Homo sapiens: one gene and its partners. The protein of the gene in region 6 interacts with the protein of the main gene of each other region in a biochemical or structural test. Each region holds a gene or a part of one and is shown on either strand. Other genes may lie near its edges.

Evidence for each region.
Region 1: the proteins of GRID2IP (region 6) and SLC2A7 interact in a test that uses a peptide from one of them, tested with the Homo sapiens proteins (one large-scale study listed by IntAct).
Region 2: the proteins of GRID2IP (region 6) and AKAP10 interact in a test that uses a peptide from one of them, tested with the Homo sapiens proteins (one large-scale study listed by IntAct).
Region 3: the proteins of GRID2IP (region 6) and TMEM151B interact in a test that uses a peptide from one of them, tested with the Homo sapiens proteins (one large-scale study listed by IntAct).
Region 4: the proteins of GRID2IP (region 6) and SLCO1B1 interact in a test that uses a peptide from one of them, tested with the Homo sapiens proteins (one large-scale study listed by IntAct).
Region 5: the proteins of GRID2IP (region 6) and CRB2 interact in a test that uses a peptide from one of them, tested with the Homo sapiens proteins (one large-scale study listed by IntAct).
Region 7: the proteins of GRID2IP (region 6) and SLCO2B1 interact in a test that uses a peptide from one of them, tested with the Homo sapiens proteins (one large-scale study listed by IntAct).

The regions. Positions count from the first base shown.
Region 1 is NC_000001.11:9,009,424-9,012,923, reverse strand, and holds part of SLC2A7 (solute carrier family 2, facilitated glucose transporter member 7), read left to right. Parts: intron 1-2,679; coding exon 2,680-2,781; intron 2,782-3,500. UniProt on the Homo sapiens protein: Probable sugar transporter. Even if its physiological substrate is subject to discussion, it is able to transport glucose and fructose. Does not transport galactose, 2-deoxy-d-glucose and xylose.
Region 2 is NC_000017.11:19,953,829-19,957,328, reverse strand, and holds part of AKAP10 (A-kinase anchor protein 10, mitochondrial isoform 1 precursor), read left to right. Parts: intron 1-3,500. UniProt on the Homo sapiens protein: Differentially targeted protein that binds to type I and II regulatory subunits of protein kinase A and anchors them to the mitochondria or the plasma membrane.
Region 3 is NC_000006.12:44,273,450-44,276,696, reverse strand, and holds part of TMEM151B (transmembrane protein 151B), read right to left. Parts: coding exon 3,191-3,247; intron 1,295-3,190; coding exon 170-1,294; 3' UTR 1-169.
Region 4 is NC_000012.12:21,129,836-21,133,993, reverse strand, and holds the start of SLCO1B1 (solute carrier organic anion transporter family member 1B1), read right to left. Parts: upstream 2,801-4,158; 5' UTR 2,758-2,800; intron 1-2,757. UniProt on the Homo sapiens protein: Mediates the Na(+)-independent uptake of organic anions.
Region 5 is NC_000009.12:123,362,697-123,366,196, reverse strand, and holds part of CRB2 (protein crumbs homolog 2 precursor), read right to left. Parts: intron 3,333-3,500; coding exon 3,009-3,332; intron 281-3,008; coding exon 85-280; intron 1-84. UniProt on the Homo sapiens protein: Apical polarity protein that plays a central role during the epithelial-to-mesenchymal transition (EMT) at gastrulation, when newly specified mesodermal cells move inside the embryo.
Region 6 is NC_000007.14:6,506,462-6,509,961, reverse strand, and holds part of GRID2IP (delphilin), read left to right. Parts: intron 1-648; coding exon 649-1,004; exon of another isoform or gene 1,005-1,056; intron 1,057-1,560; coding exon 1,561-1,977; intron 1,978-3,500.
Region 7 is NC_000011.10:75,149,782-75,153,906, reverse strand, and holds the start of SLCO2B1 (solute carrier organic anion transporter family member 2B1), read right to left. Parts: upstream 2,801-4,125; 5' UTR 2,526-2,800; coding exon 2,510-2,525; intron 1-2,509. UniProt on the Homo sapiens protein: Mediates the Na(+)-independent transport of steroid sulfate conjugates and other specific organic anions.

The DNA of each region.
Region 1 (3,500 bases), on a different chromosome or scaffold from region 6:
AGAGTGAGACTCTGTCTCAAAAACAACAACAACAACAAAGAAAAACCTTCAGATCCAAGTTTCTTCCTTTGTAAAAATCATTATGGTGACTGCAATACATGGTATTCAAATGCAGGTACCCCTTTTTGTTGGTGCAGTTTCATGATTTCAGAGTTTAGTATTTAAAGTCTGAGCTACTTACGCTTTGATATATATGTTGCATGAAAAAGGGTCAGATGATCATGGCATTCCTTTCCCTAGACCATTTTCAAGTTATCTCCTGATTATTTTGATTCCTATTTCTTGAGTTGCCAGTGATGGTAAACATTTTCAAGAAAGTTATCTATTATTTGTATTTTCCCCAGAGCTAGTTTAAGTTCCAGTAAACTCTCAGAAGGTTTAGAAGGGCAGGGAGGGAGAAGTTAAGGAAAACAGTGGGAGAGGCTGACAGGAAAATTAAGGGAAGAGGACAGAGGTCCCCAGGCTGAAGTCTCAACCCCTTCCTCCTGCTGGATTTCTGTGGCCCCATCCCCAGTTTTCCCCTGGGGCAGGATCCATCCTTTATCCTCAGAGTCCTCCTCCTTGGGGATAAATGACCATAACTAGGACCTGCTTCACCATCATCCTACCTGGAGCAACCCAAGCCAGAAAAATACCCTTTCCCTCTCCCTGGAGGAACAGCATCTGGGAACCAGGCATACAGCAGGAAATTGACAGTATTTCCCTGATTTTTGGGGTGCACTTCGCTCCCATCCTGAATGGCAGTGATAGTCTGTCTGTTGGGATGTTGGGAGGACATGAGTCAGCTAACATGAGTCAAGGGGCTGTACAGGGCCGGCTCTGGTCAGCCATTAGGGATGGAGTAGAATGGAAATGGTATTAGAAGTAGAAAAGGAGCCAGGTGTGGTGGCTCATGCCTGTAATTCCTGCACTTTGGGAGGTTGAGGCGGGCGGATCACCTGACGTCAGGAGTTCGAGACCAGCCTGGCCAACATGGTGAAACCCCATCTGTACTGAAAATACAAAAATTAGCCGGGCGTGATAGCACATGCCTGTAATCCCAGCTACTCGGGAGACTGAGGCAGGAGAATTGCTTGTACCCGGGAGGCGGAGGTTGCAGTGAGCCACGGTTGCACCACAGCACTCCAGCCTGGGTGACAGAGTGAGACTCCACCAAAAAAAAAAAAAAAAAAAAAAAGAAGAAGAAGAAGAAGTAGAAAAGGAAGGAAGAAGTCGAAAGAATGCTGATCACAGGGAGTGTGGCCTGGGCTTGGTTGTTGGAGAAGGAGCTGGCTGAGTGGAGGGGTCAGTCCATCAGGTGGAAAAGTGGAGAGATGAGGGGCCCCGCATGATGTGAGCCCAGATTCCAGATGGCCTCAATGTCGAGTGGAGCCCCAGAGAATAGGAGGGGGCTATTTTTATTCTTATTCTTTTTATTTATTTATTTTTTAAACATAGAGACAGGGTCTTACTATGTTGACCCGGCTGGTTTCGAACTCCTGAGCTCAATCAATCCTCCTGTCTCGGCCTCCCAAAGCGCTGAGATTACAGGTGTGAGCCACTGTGCCCAGCCCAGGGGCTATTTTTAAATGTAGGTTTTATTCTTATTCAGGTATGGTGAGGCCAACAGATCAGGAGGTGGCTACTGCTGGAAAGACAGTTTGTTCCTCACAGATCCCATGAGGAGGGTGCGGTCCACGCCATTCCGGGCCTGCGGGGAAGCCCCAGGGTTGGTCAGGAAGCAGAGGCATGAAGGGGAAGTGTGAGGATGAACCTTTACTGTGGTTCCCACAGAAAGGAATGGGTGAGGCAGAGCGAGCAGGTTTAGGAGTAGCTGGTGTGAATAATTTCCTCAGGGTCGGGGACCACAGGGGCTGTGCCAGCTGTCTGGCCCCTGGCCCCCAGGGTGTTAGGGCAGGTGATGCTGGCCTTGCGTGTGAAAGCTCAGCAAAGGAAGACCTGGGGTGTGGGCCTGCATTGTTGGTTTGCAGATGAAAGAGGCACTCACTCCCAGACAGCGGTTTGTTTGCTATCAGTGGGGTGGGAAGGGCAGTCCCTCCAGGGCCATAAAGGTCCCAAGATGTCAAAGCATCAAACACAGAAACTAGAAAATGTGGTTATTCTAGTGGGTAGCAAGGGGTGCAGGGAGCCAAGATCCAGGAGGTCTGGAAATGAATGACCAGAACAAGGAAGGGTGGTGGTGAAGAGCATGAATGTCTGACCCATGTCAAATCAGCGGCCTGCATCCCACATGCAGGCAGCAGGGGTAAGAAAGGGGCACCTAAAAGGTGACGCACGGTGGCTCACGCCTGTAATCCCAGCACTTTGGGAGGCCGAGGCAGGAGGATCACTTGAGGCCAGGAGTTCGAGACCAGCCTGGCCAACATGGTGAAACCTCGTCTCTACGAGAAATACAAAACTTAGCCGGGCATGGTGGCAGGTGCCTGTAATCCCAGCTACTTGGGAGCTGAGGTAGGAGAATCACTTGAACCTGGGAGGCAGAGGTTGCAGTGAGCTGAGATCGCACCACTGCACTCCAGCCTGGGCAGCAAGAGCAAAACTCCGTTTAAAAAAAAAGAAAGAAAGACAAAAGAAAGAAAGGGGCACCTAAGAGGGGCCCACAAAAGGAAGTGGAGGCTCGGCCCAAGAACCGTGGGCGCCAGGCCAAGGCGGCTTCTCACTGTCCCCCTTCCCCTCCAGGCTGTCCTTGTGGAGCGGCTGGGACGGCGGCACCTCCTGCTGGCCGGCTACGGCATCTGCGGCTCTGCCTGCCTGGTGCTGACGGTGGTGCTCCTATTCCAGGTCTGACCTCATTTCCTGCCCCCTGGGTGGGGAGTCATGGGGAGGGTGGGAGGTCCCCTGACTGAACCGGGCCCGCTGCACCAAGTGGTTGGTTCTGAGTCCCACTGATGGCATGCATCCTGCCTGGAAAAGTACTTTGCAATGCCCCATCCTGAAGTGAATGTCACAGATGGCTTCATTTACCTACACCTGCACATGCAAATAAGTAACCGGATAGATGGTCCAGCTGTCATGGGAAAGAGAAACAAGGAGGACAGTTTGCAATAAAATATGTGCTTCAATGCGTAAATGCAAGGATGCCACCGCATTAGAAAACATCTATGGGCGGTGAACAGGTGTGGGTTAAGGAAAGACCAGAAGTCACCCCATTCGAGAGGTAGAAGGAGGCTGAGCACAGTGGCTCACTCCTGCAATCCTAGCACTTTGGGAGGCCAAGGCAGGAGGACCCATTGAGCCCAGGAGCTCAAGACCAGTCTGAACAACATGGTGAGACCCCATCTCTACAAAAAATACAAAACGTTTTCTGGGTGTGGTGGTGTGCACCTGTAGTCCCAGCTACTCAGGAAGCTGAGGTGGGAGGATCACCTGAGCCTGGGAGGTCAAGGCTGCAGTGAGCCATGATCGCACCATTGTACTCCAGCCTGGGGGACAGTGAGACCCTGTCTCAAAAAAGAAAAAACAAAACAAAACTACGAATCATTTTTCAGTAAGACTAAAAC
Region 2 (3,500 bases), on a different chromosome or scaffold from region 6:
ACTTTGTGATCCGCCTGCCTCGGCCTCCCAAAGTGCTGGGATTACAGGCATGAGCCACCGCGCCCGGACTGATTATCTTATTTACACATGAGAAAACCAGGGCTTAGAAAGGTTAGGTAACTTCCTCTAGGTTGTACAGTAAATGTGGACCTAGAAGCATTTTGACAAGAGCACCTGTTTTTTTTTCTTCTCTATTAGTTTAGAAATTATATACTCTTAATTATCACCTGGGATTTTGATTAGACAGCCTTCATGTTCTTTTTCATCTTAAATGTTCTTTGTGTCTTAAAGGGCTAAGTGATTTCTTCAGATCTTTTAGTTCACTCATTCTCAGTGAACTAAAATGAGGTCTAATCTGCTACTGAATCAAGTTTTCAGCATGTTATTTCCTTCCTCCCTCCCTCCCTCCTTCCTTCCCTCAACCAGGCTCCCGAGGAGCTGGGATTACAGGCGCCCGCCACCACTCCTGGCTAATTTTTATATTTTAGTAGAGACGGGGTTTCACCATGTTGGTCAGGCTGATCTTGAACTCCTGACCTCAAGTGACCCACCTGCCTCGGCCTCCCAAAGTGCTGGGATTACAGGCATGAATCACCACACCTGACGGCATGTTATTTTCATCGCAAAGTTACTGTAAGCTGGGAGAAGTGGCACACACTTGTACTCCCAGCTACTCAGGAAGCTTAAGGTGAGAAGATTGCTTGAGCCCAGGAGTTTTGAGACCAACCTGGGCAACACAGCAAGACCCCAGCTCAAACAAAGAAAAAAAGTTATTGAATTTTTTATTTCTATGGATCATTTTTTGTAGTTTCTTATTCCTTTCACCCTTCATTCCCACTTTTGATCCCATCTTTTATTTATTTAGTTTTATTAAATGTATATTTGTCTGATAATTCTGCTATCTACAGTTTTTTGTGGACCTGACTCAGCATTTCTTTGTTTCTTCGGATTCAGACTGTTGGTGGCTTGTGATTTTAGTGATTTTTGGCCGTGAACATGTTTCTTGGACTTTTGTCTGTGGGAATTCTCTGTGTACTCTGTATAAATTAAGTTACTTCAGGTGTTTTGCATTTTCTTTTGCCATGCACCTGGGGCCTGGGTCACTACCCTTCTGGTACCACTTAAAACTGAATTTTTGTCTTGGGTGCTCGTACTGATCCTGTATGAGTACAGGTTTATACTTACTGTAGAAATATGGTGTTTGATTATGGGGTATTGTCCCAGATGGTGCTGGAGTATTAATATGCTCTCTGTTAAACTTAATGTGTTGTCCCTGTAAAACTCCAAAATTCTGAATTCCAGAATACTACTGGCCCCAAATGTTTAAGATAAGGGCACTGCCTGTATTTGTTTCTGCCTCCCACTATTTTCCTTAGTTTAACACAAACTCACCTTTTTAAAAAACATTTTGAGAGAATTCAGTATTGGGAAGAGTTTCTAACCTGTTTCTGGAAATGGAAGTCCAAAGTCTGTTTCTGTAATTGTTTTTTTTTTGAGATGGAGTCTCACTCTGTCACCCAGGCTGGAGTGCAATGACGTACTCTCAGCTCACTGCAACCTCCACCTCCCGGGTTCAAGCGATTCTCTTGCCTCAGCCCCCTGAGTAGCTGGGATTACAGGTGCCCACCACCATGCCTGGCTGATTTTTGTATTTTTAGAAGAGATGGGGTTTCGCCATGTTGGCCAGGCTGGTCTTGAACTCCTGACTTTGTGATCTGCCCACCTCAGCCTCCCAAAGTGCTAGGATTATGTTTCTGTAATTGTAATACATTTATTGTTTTTAGAAACTGTCTTTGCTTTAGTGGTAATTTTCAATAAAAATAGAAATAGCAGTGGAGTTATTAAAAGAGCATTAGTTACATTTTTCCCTTTTTCATTATCTTCAAATATTATATATAGTAAGTTTGACCTTTTTAAAATGTATACTTGTATCAGTTTTAACACATACATAGATTCCTGTAACTGTCACCACTATAAGGGTAAAGAACAGTTAGTTCCTTCACCTTTGAAGTCAAGCCCCACCTCTATCCCAACACTTGGCAACCGCTGATCTTTCTCCGTCTCAATAGCTTTGCCTTTTCTCTTTTTTTTTCTTATTTTTTTTTTTGAGACAGCGTCTTGCTCTGTCGCCCGAGCTGGAGTGCAGTGAGGCAATCTCGGCTCACTGCAACCTCCGCCTCCTGGGTTCAAGCAGTTCTCCTGCCTTAGCCTCCCTAGTAGCTGGGATTATAGGCACGCACCACCACACCCGGCTGATTTTTTTGTATTTTTAGTAGAAATGGGGTTTCACCATGTTGGCCAGGCTGGTCTCAAACTCTTGACCTCAAGTGATCCACCTGCCTCGGCCTCCCAAAGTGCTGGGATTACAGGCGTGAGCCACTGTGCCCAATCAGGACTTTTTTTTTTTAAATTTACATTCAACTTGTCATTTTTTTCTTGTATGGATTGTGCCTTCAGAGTCACACCTAAGAGCCCTTTGCCTAAGCAAAGGTCATGAAGATTTTCTCATATGTTTCCTTTTAAAAGTATTGTGGTTGGCCAGGTGCCATGGCTTATGCCTGTAATCTCAGCACTTTGAGAAGCTGAGGTGGGCAGATTACGAGGTCAGGAGATCGAGACCATCCTGGCTAATGCGGTGAAACCCCATCTCTACTAAAAATACAAAAAAAAAAAAAAATTAGCCGGGCGTGGTGGCGGGCACCTGTAGTCCCAGCTACTTGAGAGGTTGAGGCAGGAGAATAGTGTGAACCCGGGAGGTGGAGCTTGCAGTGAGCCGAGATCGCGCCACTGCACTCCAGCCTGGGCAACACAGTGAGACTCCATCTCAAAAAAAAAAAAAAAGTATTATGGTTTTACACTTTACGTTTAGATATATATCTTTTTTGAGTTAATGTCGTATAAGTATGAGGGTTACGTCAGATTTTTTGTTTTTTGTTTATTTTTACATATGGATGTCTAGTTGTTCTAATACCATTTGTTGAAAAGACAACCTTTACTCCATTGAATTGCCTTTGTACTTTTGCCATATTTGTCTAGGCCTGTTTTTGGACTCCTTTTTCTGTTTCATGATGTGTGTGTCTATTCCTTTGTTAATACCACATGGTCTTAATTACTGTATAGTAAGTCTTAAAATTGGGTAATGCTGGCCTTATAAAACGAATTGGGAAGTTTTTATTTTTACTCTTATTTCCATTTTCTAGAAGAGATTGTGTAGAATTGGTGTCATTTCTTCTTTAGATATTTGGTTGAATTGGGAAGTGATGCCATCTGGGCCTAGGGTTTTGTTTTTTGTGTGTGAGACAGAGTCTCACTTCTGTCACCCAGGTTGGAGTGCAGTGGTGAGATCTTGGCTTACTGCAACCTCTGCCTCCCAGGTTCAAGTTATCCTCCTGCCTCAGCCTCCCAAATAGCTGGGATTACAAGCGTGTGCCACCATGCCCGACTAATTTTTGTATTTTTAATGCAGACAGGGTTTCACCATGTTAGCCAAGCTGGTCTCG
Region 3 (3,247 bases), on a different chromosome or scaffold from region 6:
GACAGCGGGGGTCTCGGCCCCATCCGGGCCTGTCTTGCGGCCCTCACCTCCCTTTCCCTGCCCCCCGCGCGGCCTCAGTCACCGTGGTGACTCGCCCTGCGTCGCAGAGGGAGCACAGTCCGGCGAGGGGCAGGCGGGAGGACGGCGCGGGCCACTCCGGGGCCGGAGGTCACAGTGAGGTCTCTACGCAGGAGCCGTGGCGGTGCAGCGGCCGGTGGCTGTGGCCCAGACACCCCTCCTGCCGGTGGACGATGAGGACCGGAAAGTAGAGGGCGTCGTGGTAGGGCGGCGGCGGCCCGGCCTCCTCCTCGTCGTCGTCCTCGTCGTCCCCCATGCTGGCCTGGCTGGACAGCCGCGTCTGCTCCGTGGGGCAGCTGGCCTCGTTGACGCTCCCGCTGCGGCTGCGCCACAGGCAGCTGCGCCGGGAGCCGTAGAGACGGCCCAGCGAGAAGCGGCTGCCCCCGCAGCCCGCGCCCCCACCGGGCCCCGGGCCGGCCCGCGGGCTGGCGCAGATGCTTAGGGCGCTGCGCGAGAAGATAGACGAGCTGCTGACGGCGCGCTGGCAGTGCTCGCAGCTGCGCCGGTAGGGAGCCACGCCCGCCGCGCCCGGGCCGCCTACCCCACCGTAGCGGCACGAGGGCGCGTAGCCGCCGCCTGCCCCGCCGCAGCGCGTCCCGAGCCCCGCCAGGTCCATGAGCACCGCCTCAGAGTAGCTGGGCACCAGCTGCTGGTTGGAGCGGATGTGCCACTCGAGCTCCGTGCTGTCTACTGTGTTGACCCGCGGCAGGCGGTGGGTGAGCGGGGGCAGCAGCTCATCGCTGGGGCTGAGGCCACCGCCTGCGCTGCTGGCCGAGCCCGGGCCCTCCAGGCCAAATAGCTTCTCCACGTGGTAGTGCGCGTAGGCCGTGCGGTACTCGGCCAGCACTCGCAGCGGCCACGACAGCGTGAGCAGCGCCGCGGCCCAGAAGGCCGACGAGCAGGCGTACCAGGGCGGCCGGGCCGGGTCCGGGAAGGCCACCATGAACTCACGGAAGTCCACGTTCTTGAGGTGCATGCCCTCGCGTGCCTCCATGTAGTCGTCTAGGCCCTCGTTCTCTGCGAAGAAGCGCGCGCGCTGGCACAGGTACGCGTTCTCGGCCTCCACGCTGGCGAAACTGAAGCACTTGGTGAAGCGCAGCCGCGTGGCCGGCGCGCCCTCCAGCCCCACCAGCGTCTTGGACACGTCGCGAACGCCGCAGCGCGCGTAGTCGAACTCAGCCTCCGCCACGTGCGTGTTGACGCGTTCGTGGTAGACCTGCGGCGCGGGGGGCAGGCGGCGGGGTCGCGGGGAGCCCGTCATTGGTGCCCGCTTCTGCCCACTCACCCTTTCCCGCCCCATCTGTGCTCTGGTTGCCTGGTCGGACCCTAAGTCTGTCTTGGTTTAGGTGCCGGCTGGAGCTGGTTAGGATCTTTCCGTCTGACTTACAGGGCAACTGACGCCCTCTGTGTAATCAGACGTGATGACCGGACTAGAACCAGCCCTACCTGTGCGCATTTAAATTTTTTTTCTTTTTCTTTTTCTTTTTTTTTTTTTTTTTTTGAGATGGAGTCTGGCTCTGTCGCCCAGGCTGGAGTGCAGTGGCGCCATCTCGGCTCACTGCAAGCTCCGCCTCCCGGGTTCATGCCATGCTCCCGCCTCAGCCTCCCGAGTAGCTGGGACTACAGGCGCCCACTACCACGCCAGGCTAATTTTTTGTGTTTTTAGTAGAGACGGGGTTTCACTATGTTGGCCAGAATGGTCTCGATCTCTTGACCTCGTGATCCACCCGCCTCGGCCTCCCAAAGTGCTGGGACTACAGGCATGAGCCACCGCCCCCGGCCGCGCATTTAAATTTTAACTAAGCCCTGCTTCCTCTAGGGGTCAGGCCCTGGCCATGAACTGCCCCTCTGGCCTGCCTGATCCATTTGCCACTGCCTCTGTTTTCCAAAGTGCCCCCACATCACCACAAACAGCCTCCTCTTCTTCTTTCTTCCCTTTTACAATTGTGTTTCCCAATGGGTTCCCCAGAAGCACTCCCTAAAGAACCCCTCTATCTCTAGTCTGCCTGTTCACGCTGTAGCTATCATCAGCCTCCTTCCTGCTTCTCACCCGCCCCAGGCTTCTGTCTATTGATCCTTATACTGAGACAGATGGCCTGCATCTGGGAACGTCTCCTCCAGGACCCCAATATGTCTCATCCTGGCGAGTCCACAAAGTGCTGATTGACCTGCCCACCCTCAGTGAGACTTCCTACGCCCACCTCCTCTTAGACCCTTGAACTTGACATCCAGGAAGCTGGGATTGAGCCTAGCACTACCACTTAAGAGCAGCAGACTTTGGACAAGTCACTGAGTTTAGGTGTCCATACCTGTGAAAGAACTCAGTAGCAGTCACCTCACTGAACAGGTAAGAGCATGCTATGATACTGGGCATGTGAAGCCATCTCCAGCCATTAAGCACTATTTTTATTTTTATTTTTTTTTTTGAGATGGGGTCTTGCACTGTGGCAATCACAGCTCACTACAGCCTCAACTGCCCAGGCTCAAGCGATTCTCCCACCTCAGTTTCCTGAGTAGCCGGGACTACAGGTGCATACCACCACACCAGCTACTTCTTTTTATTATTTATAGAGATGGGGTCTTACTATGTTGCTGCCGGGTGGGCTGGTCTCAAACTCCTGGCTCAAGAGATCCTTCTGCCTCACCAAAGTGCTGAGGTTACAGGCCTGAGCCACCACACTCTGCCATTAATCACTAAGTAGATCCATTAAGCACTAAACAGTATAGAGATCCTGGAGCCAGATTGATTGAGTTCAAGTCTCATCTCCACCACATACTGCCTATTTGACCTTAGACACATTACTTAAACTCTCCAGGCCTCAGTTTCCTCATCTGCAAAATGGGAATACCTGCCTACATCATAGGGTTGTTATGAGGGTTAAATAAATGATTTGATGTGTGTAAAATACTTAGAGCAGAGCCTGGCTCCTGGTCGGTTTTTGCTGTTATGATTATGGTTGTTGCTATTGCCCTGCTGTTGCAATGCTCATGGGAGCTCACTGCTGCCTTTTGCTCCTCCCACCTTCCCCCCAGGGAGGTGGGGAGGGAGTGAGGCAGCACGTAAGTGCCACCTCCCATGTTGAATGTCCTGCACTCCCCACCAGCTCCTCACCTGGGTGGTGGTATAGGCGTCTCCATTGCGGTATCTGGTGACCTGGCGGGTGCGGCG
Region 4 (4,158 bases), on a different chromosome or scaffold from region 6:
AAATAATAAGAGCTATCTATGACAAACCTGCAGCCAATATGATACTGAATGGGCAAAAACTGGAAGCATTCCCTTTGAAAACGGGCACAAGACAGGGATGCCCTCTCTCACTGCTCCTATTCAACATAATGTTGGAAGTTCTGGCCAGGGCAATCAGGCAGGAGAAGAAAATAAAGGGTATTCAATTAGGAAAAGAGGAAGTCAAATTGTCCCTGTTTGCAGATCACATGATTGTATATCTAGAAAACCCCATCATCTCAGCCCAAAATTTCCTCAAGTTGATAAGCAACTTCAGCAAAGTCTCAGAATACAAAATCAATGTATAAAAATCACAAGCATTCTTATACACCAATAACAGACAAACAGAGAGCCAAATCATGAGTGAACTCCCATTCACAATTGCTTCAAAGAGAATAAAATACCTAGGAATCCAACTTACAAGGGATGTGAAGGACCTCTTCAAGGAGAACTACAAACCACTGCTCAATGAAATAAAAGAGGATACGAACAAATAGAAGAACATTCCATGCTCATGGGCAGGAAGAATCAATATCATGAAAATGGCCATACTGTCCAAGGTAATTTATAGATTCAATGCCATCCCCATCAAGCTACCAATGACTTTCTTCACAGAATTGGAAAAAACTACTTTAAAGTTCATATGGAACCAAAAAAGAGCCCGCATACCAAGTCAATCCTAAGCGAAAAGAACAAAGCTGGAGGCATCACCCTACCTGACTTCAAACTATACTACAAGGCTACAGTAACCAAAACAGCATGGTACTGGTACCAAAACAGAGATATAGACCAATGGAACAGAACAGAGCCCTCAGAAATAGTGCCGCATATCTACAACTATCTGATCTTTGACAAACCTGAGAAAAACAAGCAATGGGGAAAGGATTCCCTATTTAATAAATGATGCTGGGAAAACTGGCAAGCCATATGTAGAAAGCTGAAACTGGATCCCTTCCTTACACCTTACACAAAAATTAATTCAAGATGGATTAAAGACTTAAATGTTAGACCTAAAACCATAAAAACCCTAGAAGAAAACCTAGGCAATACCATTCAGGACATAGGCATGGGCAAGGACTTCATGTCTAAAACACCAAAAGCAATGGCAACAAAAGCCAAAAATGACAAATGAGATATAATTAAACTAAAGAGCTTCTGCACAGCAAAAGAAACTACCATCAGAGTGAACAGGCAACCTACAGAATGGGAGAAAATTTTTGCAACCTACTCATCTGACAAAAGGCTAATACCCAAAATCTACAATGAACTCAAACAAATTTACAAAAGACAAACGACCCCATCAAGAAGTGGGTGAAGGACATGAACAGACACTTCTCAACAGAAGACATTTATGCAGCCAAAAAACACGTGAAAAAATGCTCATCATCACTGGCCATCAGAGAAATGCAAATCAAAACCACAATGAGATACTATCTCACACCAGTTAGAATAGCGATCATTAAAAAGTCAGGAAACAACAGGTGCTGGAGAGGATGTGGAGAAATAGGAACACTTTTACACTGTTGGTGGGACTGTAAACTAGTTCAACCATTGTGGAAGACAGTGTGGCGATTCCTCAGGGATCTAGAACTGGAAATACCATTTGACCCAGCCATCCCATAAGTGGATATATACCCAAGGGATTATAAATCATGCTGCTATAAAGACACATGCACACGTATGTTTATAGCGGCACTATTCACAGTAGCAAAGACTTGGAACCAACCTAAATGTCCAACAACGATAGAGTGGATTAAGAAAATGTGGCACACATACACCATGGAATACTATGCAGCCATAAAAATGATGAGTTTATGTCCTTTGTAGGGACATGGATGAAACTGGAAACCATCATTCTCAACAAACTATCGCAAGGACAAAAAACCAAACACCGCATGTTCTCACTCATAGGTGGGAACTGAACAATGAGAACACATGGACACAGGAAAGGGAACATCACACACCGGGGACTGTTGTGGGGTGGGGGAGAGGGGAGGGATAGCATTAGGAGATATGCCCAATGTTAAATGATGAGTTAATGGGTGCAGCACACCAACATGGCACATGTATACATATGTAACAAACCTGCATGTTGTGCACATGTACCCTAAAACTTAAAGTATAATAATAATGAAATAAAAAAAGAAAAAAACTGTACTGAGAAGACTTTTTGCTTATTTAATTGGAGATAAATTATCTAGAAAATATATTTCCCTTCACCCTGTATCAAACTTGAGTTGAAACAAGGAAACTGAGGTGGTTATGTGACTTTGAGACACCTGTTTTTTATGTTTGCCAATTAACTCTTCCCTCTACTCCCACCCTTGGCTGCCTTCATCCAGTTAAGAAGACATCAAAGAAATAAGGAGTCTAGTGTGATCAGTCAATGTAGTTGACAAAAATAATTATCCTGTAGCATATTTTAAGAAGGTAACTAGAGCTTCATTTTTGAGACTTGATTTTTATTTGTTTGGAAATTAATAAGACCAAGATTTGAAACTTTATATTTAAATATATAAAGGTATTATTTTCTCTACTTTATTTTTAACAGTATATAAACCTGAGGCTCTTCTACTCCCAGAAGGAATATTTACTATGTTTTAAGGGCTCAGAATGTAAGCGTGTGGAAGACACAGAGCATAAAATTCGTAATATTTTTCAAGACCATCAAAATCTTCTTCCGTGAAAATTTCTTACATAAAATATATGTAAAAATTAGAGAATCTCAATGGTTCTTACCTGGATTTAGAATCCTACAGCAACTGCAACAAGTCCACCCTTTATTCCTCTTAAAGTAGTTGGCTTTTTGAAAACAAGTCCAGTGATGATTAACCACCTTATTATGTCATTGCTCTAGTCAAACATATAAAACCTAGTTAGTTTTAAGAGTTCACTCCAGTTGCCAATATTTAAAGATTATATTTCTCAGAATTCTCACATTATTTTTTGTTAATCTTAACAAGTAAACCTTACTTTTGGGAATGGCTTTTACTTGTTTATTCAATTAAGTTGGTGGCATAAGATTTTTTTCTTTAAAAATATGAGTACAATAAATTATTCCAGGTATTTAAAACTTCCAAATAGGAAATAATTTAAGACAAATAAAAAATATGCCTACAGGTTACATTGGCATTTAAAAATTAAAATATACCCTCTTTGCTTGGTACATAAGTATGGTTCTAACGTGGTATGTATGGAGACTGGAGATACCACCTGGAATAAGAGAGTCCCAATTAACTGCAAGACCATTTTTCTGAATGATGAAAATTAAGACTGCTTTATGCGATAGATTCTTTACATCAAAACAGGAAAGAATTATTAATATCACAGTTTCCTTTTATTGACTTGACTTGTGGAGAAAGGAAGAGCTTAACTCAGTTAAAAGTTTTCTTGAGTAGAGATGAAGTTTAATTAATTCAATAACTCAAACATTTTAGACTCTCAATTATACCTTGGACATTAAGCTCTCTTCTGAAATAAAGTACAGACCCTTCTCTCACATAAATATATATATTTCAGAAAAGTGTGAAGATATATGTATGTATATACACACAAACATACATGTATACATATATACACACTTTTACCTGTATACACATATGCACATATATATATGTGGTAATGTGAGGATGCATATATGAGAATATGGTTACCCCTTATCATTCATGGGACATTTGTTGATATGGTTGCAGCAAAATGTATTTGATGTCTGTGCCACAGTTATCTGATTGATTAGTTCTATTCTTGGTTAATTATTGAGAGTATTGGAATCATGAGACAAACTAAAGAGTAGTGTAGAGGGGAAGAATGACTGTGCAGAACTGAGAAATGTAGACCCAAGGCCAAAATATTAGAGTAAGGCTTCCAAATACTCTGCTGAGTAAGAATCTACTGGCGAGTTGTCAAAATAGCAATCCAGTCCCATACCCAGCAGATTCTGGCTCAGGAGACCAAAGATTATGCCTGTTAAATAAGCACTTTGAAAAATTTTCATGTACTGCCAGATTTTGATATCATAACAGGAATGCAGAACATTTTCCATCATTTTTATGGACTTCCTTTTATTCACAATGGGAATACAGTTTGGGTTTTCTCAGGCTAATGGTTTTCTCCTCAGACATCCATTTCATTGAAAACACA
Region 5 (3,500 bases), on a different chromosome or scaffold from region 6:
CGCGCCTGCCCCTTCTGCCCCGCGCCTGGCCTCCCCGCCCTCGGGCACCCGGCGCCCCTGCCGCCTGCCCCGCCGCTCGCTCACCCGTTGACCAGGTCGTGGCACGTGCCCCCATGTGCGCACGGCTGGCTCTGGCACTCGTCGAGGTCCAGCTGGCAACGGGTGCCCCCGTAGCCTGGCGCGCACACACAGCGGAAGGAGCCCACGCCGTCCAGGCACGAGCCCCCGTGCAGGCAGGGCGCTGAGGCGCACTCGTCCACCTCCATCTCGCAGGTCACGCCTGGACAGGGCAGGGGACACACAGGGTGCAGGATGGACACCCAGAGCAGGGCGGAAGAGGTCGCGCCAGGCCTGCTCCAGAGTTAGAGACTCGTGGATTCATTCATTCAGAGCCGGATGGTGGTGGTGGTGGTTGGGGGGTGGGGGACGGGTCATGCCAGCAACCGCAGGGAGAGAAACGAGACAGACAGCCCTGCCTTCATGGGGCTCACAGCAGTCTAGGCCAGGACATGGTGGGGGGTGATTCAGCCAGTAATTACCTAAATGAGCTAGGTGATGTTGCCAAGTTCAACAAGGAAAGGGGTTGGGTCTTGGGAAAGCAATAGCCGGGGTCTGCTCTGTTCAGGGAAGGCTTCCTAGAAGAAGAGGCTTTTGAAGGATTCAGATAGGGGACTGTGGGCAGCAGTTGGATTCCAAAGAGACTGCAGCAAGAGGCAAGTTCCACTAGGGGCAGGGCCATGATGCCCTAGGCGGGGTTATTGGAGGGTTGGAAGCAAGGGAGAGGGTGGCGGAGGTGAGTCGGGTGGGAGGTGTCAGTGCCTTGGGGACCAGGTAACCTCTGGGTCCATCCTGAAAGTTTCAGACAGGTAAGTGACTTGGTCCCACCTACATTTTAGTTAGTTGTTTTGGGTTTGTTTTTGTTTTTTATTTTTTTGAGACAGAGTCTCACTCTGTCGCCCAGGCTGGAGTGCAGTGCTGCAATCTTAGCCCACTGCAATCTCTGCCCACTGGGTTCAAGTGATTCTTGTGCCTCAGATTGCAGAGTAGCTGGGATTACAGGTGCATGCCACCTCACCCGGCTAATTTTTGTATTTTTTTGTAGAAAAGGCGTTTCACCATGTTGGCCAGGTTGGTCTCCAACTCCTGGCCTCAAGTGATCCACCCACCTCAGCCTCCCGAAGTGCTGGGATTACAGGCGTGAGCCACCACACCTGGCCCTACCTACTTTTTAGAAGGTCCACTCTGGTGGCTTTCAGATCCCAGAGAGGCAGGAGATGCTTGAGTAGGGTAATCACTCCTCCCAGTGTCCCTGCACTGTCCTGGTTTTAGAACTGAAAGTACCAAGTCCCCAGAACCCTCGCAGTCCTGGGCGAATCACGACAGCTGAGTGGCTCTCCCAGGGTGATGGTGAAGAGGAAGGGAGATGGGGAGTCCCAGGGTTTCAGATACGCTGCCTGAGATCATCCTGGACTCACGTGTCACTGTAGACTCCAGCAGGCCCTGCCCCCTAAGTGGGTTTGGTCAAGCGGGGGCCAGAGGCCCAGCTGACTCCAGCTGGAACCCTCCCCCTTCTCAGTTCATTGAGCACAAAACATGGCCCCACCTTCCCATGACCCTTCCCTCCTCCCTCCCCATCCCCACTCCCACCCTCTGTGCCAGGGGGAGCCAGGCCTTGTCTGGAAATCCCAAACTCCCCCACCCGGCTTGGAATGGAAAGAGGAGAGAATGAGTCACGGCAGATGCTGCCCCCACTCACATCCACAGCTTACCCAGGAAGAGTCACCCGAAGTGTGTGAGTGCTACACATCCGGATGCACAACCCACTGCCCGCACAACCCACTGCCCGCACAACCCACTGCCCACACAACCCACTGCCCGAACAACCCACTGCCCACACATGCACTCAGACTGCAGACACCCCCAGGTACTGGCAGATCTTTACAGATGCAAAACAGAACTTGGAACTAGGAGACACATGGACGAATGTGACCTGCACTGGCATGTACACTAATACACCCAGACGCTGAGACACTGGAACGATGAGAAAGATGCATGGAACCAGCTTCCCAAATCTCTCTTCATCAGCTGCCATCTCTTCGCTGTAGGCCCCCTGCCCTGGAACCCAGCCCCCCAATCTGTACCTCTTGCTCTGAAGTGACTTCAAACTGCCCTCTGCCCTCAGAGTACAGTTGTCTGAATTCAGGATTGAAGTAGGATCCAGAGCATCTACACTGCAGACTCAGACTCTGCCCTGGACTCAGCTTCGCTCCCAGACTGCGCCCCTTCTGTCCCCAGCTGCGCCCTCCTTCCCGACTTCAGGCCTCTCTGGGAAGCCGCTCCAGGATGTTCTCGGCTCAGACCATGGGTGGGCCTGGGACGGGCCACACTCTGGAGAAGGTACCCTTAGTGCCAGTCACTTTTCTGAGCACTTACGTATATATTATCCCACTCCAGACAGCAGCGATCCCTGGGGTATGTCAACACTACAGTTTGAACGAGACCTTGTATGTCTATGCTAGAACTCTGGGGGAGACCCAGAGGCCAGGGGTCCACATTGCACTCCAGACCACATCAGGAGTGTTCAAATGAGCTGATGGTGACTGTCGTGTAGACAGTGTCTACATGACAGCTTGGCACAGGCCTGAAGTGCTAGAAAGACTATCTGGGCATCCTCACTAAAGTCACGCCAGGCAGGTTCACACTGCCAGAGATGAATGAGGGGTATTCCACCCCCGCAGCCAAACTGAACTCTAGGCTGGACTGAAATCACATTTACCGAGTGCCTGAGATGCGCCACACACCACGCCAGCACCCGCACATACATACTCTCACCCAGAGCTGCCAGGCATCAGTTCTGTAGTCAGACCAAGTGGATATACCCTAGAGCTGCCCGGATGCCTGGGGGCGTCCCTACACGAAAGGCAAAGCTGAAGCCATGATGCTTACACTCTGAGCAGCTGATGCGATCTGCATTACAGACCTCCTCCCAGGGCGGCCCAGGCTGTTACCTGCATAGCCAAGGGGGCAATGGCACTCGTAGCGATCGGCCAGGTTGCGGCAGGTGGCCCCATGGTGGCACGGCCGGGATGCACACTCATCGATGTCCAGCTCGCAGCGTGGGCCCTGGAAACCCGGCACGCAGTAGCAGCGGAAGCCGGTGGGATCTGGACCCTGGGGCACACACAGAGCGCCGTGGTGGCATGGCTGGGTGGCACAGCCCCGGGGCTCCATGGGCCCACAGGTATAGCCACCACTCTCGGTAGCCTGGCACTCGGTCCCTGGAGCGCACGGGTCTGAGGCACAGGCACTGGGGGGCTCTGAAGGCACCGTCCCTGTAGAAAGAAGAAACTGGCTGGGCAGGGTGGGCAGAGGTTACAAGGACAATCTCCTCCCCACCCTCTCAGGCCCACCCCAGACCCCAAAAGCAACGTGGGTCTCTGCATGCACAGTATGGACAGAGGGCCAGGGGTCTGCAAGCCAGGTCCCAGTAAGCTGCACAC
Region 6 (3,500 bases):
AACTCCTCAAGAGGCTGAGGCGGGAGGATCACTTGAGCCCAGGAGTTCAAGGCTGCAGTGAGCTATTTCGAACCACTGCACTCTAGCCTATAAGCAACAGAGTAAGACCCTGTCTTAAAAAAGAAAAAGAAAGAAGGCAGATGCCTGATTCTGAGGAAGTCCCCGAGTTAGCAAGTGGTTATTGGATAAATGATCAAGTGCAACGCGTTGTACCAGCGTTGGCACAGCTGGGAAGACAGTTGCTCTGCAGCTCAGAAGGCAGGAGCCCTGGGAGGCCCTCCTGTGATCTCAGGGCTTGCTGGGTGCGCGAGACGCTCCATGACTGTGGCTCTGGGCCCTAGAGAAACCCCTCCACCCTTTGAGTTAATGGTGTTCAGTGGCTCCCAGCTGGGACCCCTGGTGACCATTCCAAGGTGAGCTGGCGTCCAGCCTGTCCTGAGGCCGAGCAGTGCTCCTGCTCACCAGATCTGGCCTTTAGTCATGCTTGGAAGGCAGGGCCGCTCAAGGTCTTCCTGCACTGTGCCCAGAGAGGGAAAGGAGAGTGGCCTGGGACACAGAGCCAGTCTGTCCTAGGACCCTCTCTCCAGCTTGCACCTGGAACCTCGGTGCTGGCTGAAGAGGAATCCTCATACTCCATCCCTCCTCCAGGGCCCAGGACCCTGTCCGGCGTCTCATGGCCCAGCGAGCGACTCTTGCCCTCCCCCTGCTACCACCCGCTGTGTTCGGGGGGTCTGGCCTCCCCCAGCAGCTCTGAGTCCCACCCCTACGCCAGCCTGGACAGCAGCAGGGCACCCTCCCCACAGCCAGGCCCCGGGCCCATCTGCCCCGACAGCCCCCCAAGCCCGGACCCCACCCGCCCGCCCAGCCGCAGGAAGCTCTTCACCTTCTCCCACCCTGTGCGAAGCCGCGATACTGACCGCTTCCTGGACGTGCTGAGCGAGCAGCTGGGCCCCCGGGTCACCATCGTGGATGATTTCCTGACCCCGGAGAACGACTACGAGGAGGTGGGCACGCAAGCAGGTGTGGAGGGAGGCGGGTGAGGCGAGGTGTGGCGGTCTGCAAGGCAACAGTGTTCCTGGGCTCCCGCAAGGGGCCTGCTGCCCTTGGGATCTTCCCCAGGCTATCCCACTCCCTAGCTCAAGCTATCCCACCCCTTGCCCCAGGTTACCCTATCTCCTGTTCAAGGTTATCATGCTCCTTGACTGAGGCTAGCCCATATTCCCTGTCGCAGGTTAGCCCATTCCTTAGCTCAGGCTATCCCACTCACAGCCTGAGGCTAACCCGTGACAGGGTCCTGTCCTTATTCCAGGCTATCCCCCTCACAGCCTGAGGCTTACCCATGAGAGGGTCCTATCCTTAGCCCAGGCTATCCCCCTCACAGCCTGAGGTTAACCTGTGAGACAGTCCTATCCTTAGCCCAGGTGTCCCTCACAGCCTGAGGCTAACCCGTGAGATGGCCCTGTCCTTGTCCCAGGCTATCCCATGATCCTTCACTTTGCACCTGCTCTAGTCTCTCTGGGCCCAGCCTCACCCTCCCCTTGCCTCTCTCCCCACCACCAGATGAGCTTCCATGATGACCAGGGCAGCTTCGTAACCAATGAGCGGAGCAGCGCCAGCGACTGCATCAGCAGCAGTGAAGAAGGCAGCTCCCTGACCTACTCCTCCATCTCTGACCACATCCCCCCACCCCCGCTCAGCCCCCCACCACCGCCACCCCTGCCTTTCCATGACGCTAAGCCCAGCTCCCGCAGCTCTGATGGTTCCCGGGGCCCTGCTCAGGCGCTGGCCAAGCCCCTCACCCAACTCAGCCACCCAGTCCCTCCACCACCCCCACCGCCCCTGCCCCCACCCGTGCCCTGTGCACCCCCCATGCTGTCCCGGGGCCTGGGCCACCGGCGCAGTGAGACCAGCCACATGAGCGTCAAGCGCTTGCGGTGGGAACAGGTGGAGAACTCAGAAGGCACCATCTGGGGTCAGGTAGGTGACCTGGGACCCAGCAGCGCTCTGTACTGGGGGAGGATGGCTTGGGCAGCAGCACTGAAGGAAAACCCATCGGCCAGGCATCTTCCAACATCATCCTCCCTACCCCAAGCAGAGGATGAGTAGAGGCCCAGCCCAAGAACGTCCCCACGCTTGGGGGCCACTGCAGGCATTGAAGCCAATCTGTGTCCCTCAGCCAAAGACACACACTGGGGACACCTGGAAATGCCACCCTACCCATCCTTGAAACCTATCACTTTTGAGGCCAGACAAGTTCTCTTAAACCTTTAAAAGAGCAGCTGGTTCAAACTCCTGCACACCAGCCTTCACCCTTTCACTTTGATGCTTGAAGTTCCTCCCTCACAACACTGGCAGTGTATGCTTGAACACCTTCAGTGGTGGGGAACTCACTACCTGTCAAGGTCTTCCTTTCCTCACTGGACGATTTTAACCATCCTTTGTCTTGCTCTGAAATCTTGTCTCCCCAGGATTCCCATGCCCTGTTTTCTTTCTGGCCCTTAAAATCGGGCAGAGCAATCTTATCCACAGACCAACCAATCTGCAAGATGAACAAGGTTCACCCCACCCCTTTTTTTTTTTTTCAGATCATTCTCTTAGAACATGGTTTCCAACCCCCACTCCAGTGTCCATGTCCCTGTCAAAGAGACATTCCCAGATGGAACCCCCAATGGGGCTTGACCAGCTCAGAGGAGAGAACAGGGTTCTCAGCTCCTTTGACTGGGACATCATACTCCTTTTAATATGGCAGGGGCTCCTTCCAGCTCCCAGGGCTGCCCCGTCCCAGTGCTCATGATCACCATCATCCTCAACTCCATCTTCTTGGGATCAATAGCTCACTCTCACATGTAGTCACACTGGGCAGAGGCATGCTTGTGATTTTTCCCCACTGCCATCTCCTGGGTCCCAATTCTGTCTCCTGCTTTCTCAGCCCACATCTCCAGGGACCCTTTCCAAGTTGCTAATAAAGATGCCCATTGAGGCCAGGCTTGGTGGTTCACGCCTGTAATCCCAGCACTTTGGGAGGCTGAGGCGGGAGGACTGCTTGAGCCTAAGAGTTCAAGACAAGTCTGGGCAACATAGTGAGATCTTGTCTCTACAAAAAAATCAAAAAGTTAGCCAGACCTGGTGGTGCATGCCTGTGGTCCCAGCTACTCGGGAGGCTGAAGAGGGAGAATCACTTGATTCCCACAGGTGGAGGTTGCAGTGAGCCAAGATGGCACCACTGCACTCCAGCCTGGGGTACAGAGTGAGACCCTATCTAAAAAAAAAAAAAAAAAAATACCTCAGTGAGACAAGGGCACAAATAAGGACCTCCTGGGTCCCCTGGAGACCTCACTCCTGCCAGCCTTGGACCGATCTTCAAGTATTGCTCCACAGCGTGGTTCTTCCATTGGTTACCAAAGGTGGACACAGGGACACAGGTCACACATGTGGCCAAACCCAAATCCATCCTCAGTGTCCCTGCCCTGCAGCCATGTTCTAAGACTTCATTCCCCTGC
Region 7 (4,125 bases), on a different chromosome or scaffold from region 6:
GGGTTATAATGAATGTTCCCAGGACACAGATTCTCTGGGCCACTGAAGCAGGGCCACTTCCTCCTCAGATACTTTCTATAGCTCCCAATTGCCTTTAAGAAAAAGTCCATGTGCCTAACCTGGCATACAAGTTCCTTGTGACTGGGCCCCATCAACTTCTTTGGCTTAACTTCCCAAGATGTTGCCCAGTGACCCCCGCTCCTCCAACGGTACTGGGCAGCTCACTAGCTCCACAGACATGCAGGTGTAGTCACTTTTCTAAGCATTTGCAGTGCTATCTCCTTCCCTGGCCATGCTCACCCTGTGTGGGATTGGTGGAAGGGAAGAGAAACCACAAGGGCAATGGCACGGAGAGGAAGAGCTCTGGTACCAGGCAGACCTGGGGGCTGGCCTCCACTCTGCTGTTTACTTTGGGGTGAGCTTGGACCTTGCTTGCCCCCTCTGAGCATCAGTTTCTCACCTATTGAAAAGGGGAAGGACATTTCACTGAGTTCTCTTAAAGCCAGTGATGCAGTGCTGGAATTTGAACCTGGGACTGCTGGTTCTTTCCCTCGCCCCACCTGTCTGCCCTAGAATGGCTTACATTTGAACACAGTTGGGCTGGAGAGAGGAAGAGCAACACCGGAAACAAGGAGGGATGAACCTCAAAGAGAAGGTCATCAAACAGCATATGGGAGAGGTTACCCCCAGCTGGAAGAATCTGGAACGGCTTCCTGGAGGAGTTGGCATTTGGAAGAGTTGGAAAACAGGGCAAATGTCACCAGAATGGGATGTGGGCAGGGGCTTCCTGAGCAAAGGTGAACAGGTGGGAAGATGAAATCTCTGAGTCAGACTGTGTGTGTGTGAATGGCTGCCCCAGCACTTGCAGGGAAACTGCTGCCTAAGGGGTATGTGGTGAGTGGGTGGAGGGGCTCTGCTGGAGCCGGATCTGAACTTCACTCCTCTCTGGTGTCTGCCCTGACTGGGACAGCTTCCCCTCTCCCTTGGGGACTCTTCCCAGGCTGCAGGCTCTGTGTCCTACCCCACCCACATTCCCACACCCCTCAGAGTAGTGTGGTGAGCCTGGCCACAGCCCAGAATGGGTCTCGGGAAGCAAGGCTAGAGATGGCACCCAATGGCCCACCAGGCAGATGCTGGGGTCAGCTTCCTGCTGTCTGTGTGGAAGGTCAGTGGGCACCTGGAGAATATTCCAGAGCTGGGCCCTGCAGGGGTCAGAAAAATAGTACTGGGGGGACTTGTGGGGAGGTGTAGTGCAGCCAAAGTCTCTAGTTAGTTCCCACACTCCCCGCTCTCCATCCCTCCCATCCATACTGAGCCAAGGCTGATGGGGAATTTGGTTTGTCAATGGCCCATTCACACCGCCCCCCCAACCATCCCACCCAAATCTGACCTCATTCTCATCTGTCCTGTGAGGTGCCCCGAGAGGAGGCATCCATCCCACCCTTCCTGCCGTACTGCAGTCCCCAAGCCATGGCTGCGTTCTCCTGGAGTCCCTGCAGCTGCTCCTCAGCTGGGTCTGTCTCCATGGCCTATGAAGCTCTCCCTGCTGGGCTTCTGGGAGCAAGTGGGGCCTTGCCCAAATGGCTGTGAGGCTCACACAGCCCAGGGGAGGATCAACAGCTGGGAAAGAGGCCAAAGGTGACTGCTATAGGGCGTCTAACCTGGAGTACTCCCAGTAGAAAGATCCTTTGTTTCTTCTACCCATACTGCCTTCCCAGAAAGTGTTGGGCCAGGTGCTCTGTTCCCAGAAACACTGCCCTCGCTACAAGGCGATTCCTTGTCACCCTGCAGGCAGAGCTTCAAGACCTTTTTCCTCCAGCCTCCTCCCCACTCTATAGTAAGAGACCTCACTGCACAGAGACCCATGCAGGTCTCTGCAGGTCACTCTCAATCTCCTGGTCTTCTGGGTGGATCTTCTGATGCTGCCTGCAGGTCTGTCTGTAGCTCTCCGTCACCTGTCCCCGTCTGATTCTCTTTCCTGCTCTGTCTCCTGCCTCTTTGTCTCTCCCAGTCTCTGCTGCAGCCCTCTCTCCCGGTTTGACCTCCCTACCTTTCCCTGCATTCTCTCGCTGATACCTGTTGATATTGTGTTCTCCGACCTCCTGTGTGCCTCTTCGTTTGAGCCTGCCTGTCTGCACTGTCTGACTACACTTTTCTCTTTTTCTCTGCTCTGTCTGTCTCTATCTTTGTCTCCTTTGAGAGGGGAAACGGCTTGAAGAGGGGGTCAGGGGCCTGTCTTTCTGTTGTCCTCTAAGTCTCGGTCTCATCAACGAGGTTTGGCTGGGTTCCCTGGCTCCAGCTGAGTAAATCGTGTCCCTTCCTGCTCCTCCAGTCATTCACTCATTCATTTAACACACCTTCACTGAACTCCGGCCATGTGCCTGGCTCTGTGCCAACAGCTGTGAGCACCCATCCCACCCACTCTGGCTCTACGGCCTCACCCTTTTCTCTGGGAACATGTCCCCCAGGCTTGCTCTCCATGGCCCTTCCTTAATTTGTTCGGACTTACCTATCCTGGGTCCCATGACTGCTGGAGTGCAGTGAGCTCCAGCCCCTAATTTAATCTCAGGACCTGGAGCTTAGCAGGGGAGAGGAAGCAAATCTTCTCAGGGGCTCCTGGAGACAGCAGCAGGTGAGCCACAGCAGGGATGCAATAACGGTGGGAGCTCCAGACACGGGGTCAGTTCTTCTTGGGCCACACAGGACATCAGACTTGTCCAGACACAGGTTAGGGAGTCTTGCTCAAACTCAGCCCCAAGTATCTCCAAGTGTTTGTCTCCCTGGGTCACTTGCTCCTTCTGTCTCTCCCTTGCCCTGGCTCCACGGTTGTATAGAAGGCTGGGTTTGTTCAAGTCCAGCCTCTCTGTGAAGAGGAAGCTGCACCCCGCCTCCCTGAGGCTCAGCCTCAGCCTGTCCTTTTCCAGCCTCTTGCCTCAGCATTTCCCTTAGGTATTTTCCCCTGCTCTGTTAGCAGCAGAGAGGTGGGGGCACAGGGGGGATGCTGATGGGTCTCCCCAAGCTCCCCAACCTTCCACATTCATCCCCCAGTCTCCTCACTGCACTCCCATTTCCCACCTGAGCCCTTCTCCTACCAAGCTCTTGTTCCCTTCACAGAACTTTTGTTGCCCTCCCTTGATAGGAGGGCCCCATAGAGAGCCCTTGTTCCCCCATCTAGCAGTTGTCCTCTTTCACTGAACCCCTGTCCCCCTCAAGCCCACGTGCCCTCTCACTAAATCCCTCATCTTCTCCCTGAGCTCCAAGGATCCACAGCAAGAAGGGGCTCTGTCCACTAAGTATCCAGTGGCAGCCTGCCTGGGTGGAGCTCATGGTAGAAGGTCCATCAATTTCAGCCATCTAGGCAAAGGAGGAGGGGAAGAGAATGGAAAATATGAAATTCTCAGAGTTTCCTGGACTGAGGACTGAGGATGGAGGTTCAGGAGCCAGAGAGATCTGGGTCCCACCTCAGTTGTTATTTGCTGGTCAAGTGATCTCAGGCAAGTCCCAGCATCTCCCTGAGCGTCCATTCTCTCATCTATAAAGAAGGGACAGTAATCCCTTGCAGAGCCACTGTGAAGGTTCGGTGAAGGACAGAGAAGCCAAGCCTGCAGGCCTGGAGCTCAGAGAAGGGAGTGGCAGAGGTGGGGCTCCGAACAGGGCAGCAAGGGAAAGCAAATCCACTTTGCCTTTCCCAGCTTGCACAGCACTTTCACACACAAGGCCCCACTGGGTCCTCCCCTTGACACTGTAACATCAGGTTATTTATTCCCTGATTTTACAAATGAGGCATGGAGTCTCAGTAACTTGCCAGAGATCACCCAGCTAGTAGGTGGTGGGTGCCTTGAACCTCTAATGATAGAACCAGGCTTTTCCCTCCACCCAGGATATCTTCTCTGAGGAAGATCTGGGTTTCCCCAAATCCAAGATGCAGAAGTGAACCTGACCCTGTCTCTGGAATAAAGTCTTTGCGTGGAATGAGGATGTGGGTTTGGAGTCTAACTTTCAGGGTGCAATAACAGAGAAACATACACCAGCTCCACTTGGCTCCTATTTGCTGTATGAGGGTGCTAGTAGGATGTAGGGAATGTGTGAAATAATCACAGATCTCCCTGGCACTCAGGAGGCACT